Regions from separate parts of the Homo sapiens genome. Here region 2 is linked to region 1. Evidence: fine-mapped expression QTL. Tissue or cell type: blood mononuclear cells. Region 1 holds a variant in brackets; the other region holds the start of a gene. All regions are shown on one strand. Distances are from middle to middle. Region 1 has its middle 55 kb from the start of CCN1. Region 2 holds the start of DDAH1 (dimethylarginine dimethylaminohydrolase 1).

The links. PIP is the estimated chance that this variant, and not a neighbour inherited with it, causes the effect.
Region 2: DDAH1 starts here. The variant in region 1 is fine-mapped to the expression of DDAH1 in blood mononuclear cells (TOPMed, PIP 0.98).

Annotation. Positions count from the first base shown.
Region 1 is chr1:85,524,318-85,527,231 of GRCh38, reverse strand. It overlaps a transcript of DDAH1 not described here. Among named protein-coding and RNA genes, the nearest start is that of CCN1, 55 kb to the left of the region's middle. The variant C/G (reference allele first, on the strand shown) is at 1,431.
Region 2 is chr1:85,463,785-85,466,698 of GRCh38, reverse strand. It overlaps DDAH1 (dimethylarginine dimethylaminohydrolase 1), which reads left to right and starts at 1,540. Exons shown (of 6, transcript NM_012137.4): 1 at 1,540-1,956. The coding sequence starts at 1,654. RefSeq lists silencers at 1,282-1,691, 1,932-2,131.

The DNA of each region.
Region 1 (2,914 bases):
TCGCTTTTCAAGGGGTAGATGAGGACAGCAGGATCCTCAGTAAAGAAGAATCACCTAGTGAGGCAGAGTTTCCAGCAGCACAGTGAAGCTACACATAGGTTGTATATCTTGGTATGATGTGTATTTGCTTTGGAAAGAGACATTTAAACAAAGTTCTCCTTAGCAAAGTCTTGCCTCCACTGCCACCAATCCAGGAGTCTCAAAATTACTTTTAATGAATTCAAGAAATAGAAGTTCTACCCTGGAACACTTATTAGCTGCCTTTCTTATATAAGTAATTACAGGACACACCATTTTCTTCCTTTTTCCTATTAACATTTCCGATTCTGCCTCTCTTTTCTCCCTCCCTCCTTCTCTTCTCACTTTGTGTCACATACACTTCATTTGAAATTCTCTAATTCTCTTTTTAGACCAGGGAAAATCGATATCAAACATTCCAGGGCCAGAGGTTTTCAAGAAAGACAAGACAAAAACCACAGAACTTCTTTCACATATGACTGAATCCCTTCACACTCTTTCTGGCCTATGGGATACTCGTTGCTGAGAGGTTTAATTTGCCTAGAATTCTCTTTACCCCCTTCTTCCCAACTCAGCCCCTTCTCTTGGTATCCACATTCCTTGATAAATACAGCCAAACCCAGCATCTTTCTCAGAATCACAAAACCCTAGTGCAAGGTCTCACAATTCTCACTCCATGAAATATGAGTTCCTGGTCAAGTGTTAAAGGCTGTGATCACACACCTAGATCCGGGCGCTCTGACCAGTGGAGTTTGTCATAAGGCCCTATTCTTTCTCAGTGATCCATGAGACACTGAACAAATTAGAGGTGCTCTATATTCAGCATGTGACTGACTGCCAAAGAAATGAAACTCAGAACCCAGGGGTACATCACAGAATGAGGAGATGATTCAGAAGCTGAGGGATCATTGTCACTGCAAACATATAGTATTAGAGAGAGAAGGAAAGCTATTAGCTTCAGGAATAAGCCTTTTTCTCTCCTCGTCTCTCTTTCCATGAGCTGGGGCTCACTGAAAGTGTTGCTGAAATGAGGGAAAGATGGGCAGCACTTTTTCCTGTAGCACATACAGGACACTTACATTTCCATGTCCTTTGTCACCATATCTGTTAGTAATTTTTCTGGATCCATTTAACCAGACAGCCTTCTGACTTCAAAATCTGTGGCAGAATTTTCACATGGCCATTCTGAAACAGAGGAGCTCACCTAAACAAATCCTGTAAGACACAGTTACCTAAAAATAACCCTAGCAAATTATTGGGAGTAGGAAATGAAGCAGAGATAGCAAGTTCCCACTGACTTTTTAAAGAATCACTATGAAGTGTTTACAAGGATACCGCAGAGGACTAAAATTAGTTTATTCTGCACAGCATTATCCACTGCTGACTCAAGATGGTGATACAAGCAGTGTTAA[C/G]CTGTGAGCTCACCCGGAAGCTCATTCTCTAAAATTACTCTCTTGCAGGGATAGACCCCTAGTTCACATTGGTGAATGGAAGATGGGGTATAAATAGCAACTTGTTACGCCATCACTCAGAAGCTATGTGTCCTGCTAGTCTCCAGTTTTGTTTCTTGCAGATGTAAGAGCCTCCTGATCAGTCTATTGTCTCTCAGTGTTCAAGGGTATGGAGTGTGTGTGTGTGTGTGTGTGAATATCATTCTTTCAGTTGTACAATACAATAATTAGAAAACTTAGAAGTTAAGTGATGTGGTAAAAATCATACAGCAATTCCCTGACACTTAAAACTGAGTTTTTGTTCCCATAATCTTCAAAGACTTAAATGTACTGAACCTTTGCTGTTTCTCCTATGAGCCAGAGGACATGTCCTATCAACTGAGTTAAGTGTCAACAGTCAGCTAGCTAGAAACATGTTCAGATATGTGTAGGGAGAGAAGAATATGTAGATACATATGCTGTACGAGTGGATTCTTATGAAAGAAAGGTTTTCTTTATATTTAAGGGCAAGTTTATTAGAATTAAGCTGCATCCACACTCTACTCCAAGTTATTATTTTGGTTGCTTCACTCAAATAGTCAATTCGATAAAGAAAAAAAAGTCAGCATCTCCAGCATTTCTACATCAGCCCATAGCCTGTGATGTTCTCTCTTGGTGGCCGATTTTGCATTTGTTTTCATACCTACTATATTTTCTATATTTCATACCTACTATATTTTCTATAGCATTCATTTCAAGACACAAACAGATATTCTTTAATGTGTGCCAGTCAGTCATTTTGATTCTAAATAATTCTGTTTCTCCGTAGGTGCCCATTCTTTGCCGCTGACAACTTCCCCCCATCTGCTTAATCCATTTTCTGGCTTATTAAGTACTGGGATGATTTCTTCAGTGACAGAAGAAACTATGCATCACTGATTTCCTATTTTTGAAGCCCTGGCATTTTTCTTGTTGGGACACTGCGTGCTTCATTTCTAATTAGGCTTTTCTTCTTACTCATATTTGGCTTTGCTTTATCAATACATTACGCAACCAGTAACTGGAAACAGGATCCCAGAGAGTGCCACAAGCAAGCTTCCCAGTGACCTAGGGGAAAGAAGGAGTATTAAAGGGTGAGATGGAATTGGAGTTGCAGGCAAGATGATTATCAGGCTTGATGATGTAATGGGAAGTTGTTAATTTTAAAGCAACAGCTGGATTCTTTCTCAGGTTGATAGTAGTTCTGTTTTGTAGCCAGATGAGTCTTCAGTAGAAACAATCCCATTTTATCAGATACAGTATTTCCTTTAAGATAGGCTTATACCAAACATCTTTAGAGAAAGCCATTGGGCCTATTCTGTTGTACAACCAGGGTTAAGCAAAATGCTCCAGAAGTAGTGTTTTTTTTAAGGTCCTATTCAAACGCCTCCACTTCCATGAAGTTTTTCCAGATCACCCCAGCTGAG
Region 2 (2,914 bases), 61 kb after region 1:
CGCTAAACTGGGGCTAATGGGGCTGCCTGGATCCCCTAAGAATTTTGCTTTAGAAGTACTACCTAGTCGGTCTTAAAGGTTTGTTATTTTACTTTTGGTCCCACTTCCCAATGTCAGTGTCAGAGCTGTCCTTGAGACTCCTCAAATTTGGGCAGGGCGTGGTAGCTCATGCCTGTAATCCCAGCACTTTGGGAGGTGGAGGCGGGTGGATCACCTGAGGTCAGGAGTTCGAGACCAGCCTAGCCAACATGGTGAAACCCTGTCTCTGCTAAAAATACAAATTAGCCGCGAGTGGTGGCGTGCACCTGTAGTCCCAGCTACTCAGGAGGCTGAGGCAGGAGAATTGCTTGAACTGGGGAGGCAGCAGTTGAAGTAAGCCGAGATCGTGCCACTGCACTCCAGCCTGGGCAACAAGAGTGAAACTCCGTCAAAACAAAACAACAACAAAAAACAAAAAAAACTCCTCAAATGTGAAGCTGAGAATTTTGAAGCTCATTTATAAATTCACACCACCCTTGTGGGAGGGGAGAGAAGGCAGATCACATCTCTGGGCTCAGTTGGGGCAACCATTCTAGGATGCTCAGAGAGACCTGCTCCTAGAAATCCAGAGTTTCCTAAAAGCTGGGATCAGAGTTCTGGCAAGAAGGCTGTAGCCTGGGCCTTGGCCCTAGACCACCAAAAAAGTGAATACAGGCTTAGGCAGTGTTCATAGAGGCCCAGCATCTGGAACAAGGGTGCTGCTGTAGTCTGTGCTGGTCAGACCACACAGGAAGAATTGTTTATTTTCCGGATACTATGATTTTAAAAGGATACAAGCAAATTGGTGTGTATCAAAAGGAAGCTGACCAGAATGTTGAAGGGACTTGGAAACCAAATCACTAGTTACTTTTCAGTGGTTTGGGCTCCAGGACTGGAGGGGGTTTAGGGTGGGGGGTAGAGGATGGTGTTAGGCAGCATAGATAATTAGAACTGTTTTCAGATATGCAAATGCTGTTTTGTGAAAACACACACACACGCGAACACACACAAAACAAGAAAAACTTGTACTTTAGGTAAGGCCAGAAAACAGAACTGGGACCCGTGGGATTTAAGCTCAACATGAAGAATCTGTAAACCATTATAGCTCTTCAAAAGTGGGCTAGACTTTGTAAGCACGCAAGGTTTAAACTGTTCAGGTAAAGACCAGGAAGCCCTCCAGCTGCTCTGTCCAGACCGAGGCCGGCTCTCCAAGTCCGCGCTGGGGACGATGGGAGGTGTGCACCTGCGACAGAACACAGGTACCGCCAGGTCCGGGTAGCGGTGGCTTTTCGCCGAGGTCCCCCGCCTCCGCATACTTCTTGCCCTCGCTGCTTCCCCGGCCGCCTCTCCTGGCCCCACTCCTCGCCCGGCGCTCGCCGCTACAACTCCCGCCTGGGCTGGCGCGAGACCCGCGAGCGCCGGAGTGGGCGCGCGGGATGCGCGCGGGCCGGCGCCCGGAGCTCTGGGCATGCTCAGTCGCGCGGGCAGGGCTCCGGGCGCGAGCTGGGCTCCTTCTGCACCACATTCAGCGGCTGCCAAGAGGAGCCGACGGGCGCTCGCAGGCTCAGCGCGCGCTGCCCGCGGCAGGACCCGGCCGCCTCCGCCGCCGCCGCCGCCCCTAAGCCTCCCGAAGCCATGGCCGGGCTCGGCCACCCCGCCGCCTTCGGCCGGGCCACCCACGCCGTGGTGCGGGCGCTACCCGAGTCGCTCGGCCAGCACGCGCTGAGAAGCGCCAAGGGCGAGGAGGTGGACGTCGCCCGCGCGGAACGGCAGCACCAGCTCTACGTGGGCGTGCTGGGCAGCAAGCTGGGGCTGCAGGTGGTGGAGCTGCCGGCCGACGAGAGCCTTCCGGACTGCGTCTTCGTGGAGGACGTGGCCGTGGTGTGCGAGGAGACGGCCCTCATCACCCGACCCGGGGCGCCGAGCCGGAGGAAGGAGGTAACTGCCGACTCGAGGGGCGCGGCCGGGGCGCGCGCCAGGCCCTCCCCCGCCGCCGGCCGCCGTGTTGCCTGGGGAGTCGCGCCATTGGCCCTCGGGCTAGTAGTTCACAACTTCCCGTCGGGGGGCGAGTGTGTGTGTGTGTGTGTGTGTCAGAGAGTCAGAGAGAAGTTCATTGTTCACACCTCCCGGCTGCCGGCAGCCTTCTGGAGGATCCGATTCAATGTGGTTGTACGGTCTCGGGCAGGTGGGTGGGCGGGGGATTCCGTCTCACGGGCATTTTTATTTGTGAAAATTAAACGGCAGCGACGACAGTGCAACTCTGAGTGTTTCCCAGGGAGCGAGGGCCGCGAGGGGTGCCGCTCCGGTAGGGCGGGTGGAGGCTGGGCGTCCCTCCAGGGGGCAGCGCCAGTCGTGACACCGAAGCCCCCAAGTCCTGCCTGGCGCTCGGAGCAGGACAAGCTGGATGAATTAACGGGGTGTCGGTGCCCACAGACCTGGGGCTTCTCAAGTTAGTTTTCAGTGGTGGCGAGTGAGTCCCAAAGAACGGGACTAGTAAGTGAATGAATGGAAGGAAAAGTGTTTTGTTGGTGAGCTGTGCTAAATGTGTGCATGAATGGGCTAGGTTTGAAAAGCTGTACTCTGTGCGGTGTTGGGTGTGTGTGCTAGCGAGCGTGTTTAATTAGAGATGGTTGTTTCACAAATTCCATAATTTTTATTCTCTATATTTTTAAACTCACAGCAATTAAGAGAGTTTTTCTGTTCTCAAGGGTTGTAACTACTTTGAAATACTGCAGCTTGTGAAATGGCTGATTGCTTTAAGTGCAATGTAGGTTAGTGGGGAGAGACAAATAGAGTGAGATTGGATTTTAAAATGCCATCTGGCCTGGGATTCTTCTCATTGCCAGTTAAGAGCCCAGGCTCAAGACTCCGTTGCTATTGGCATCCAGTGGCATTG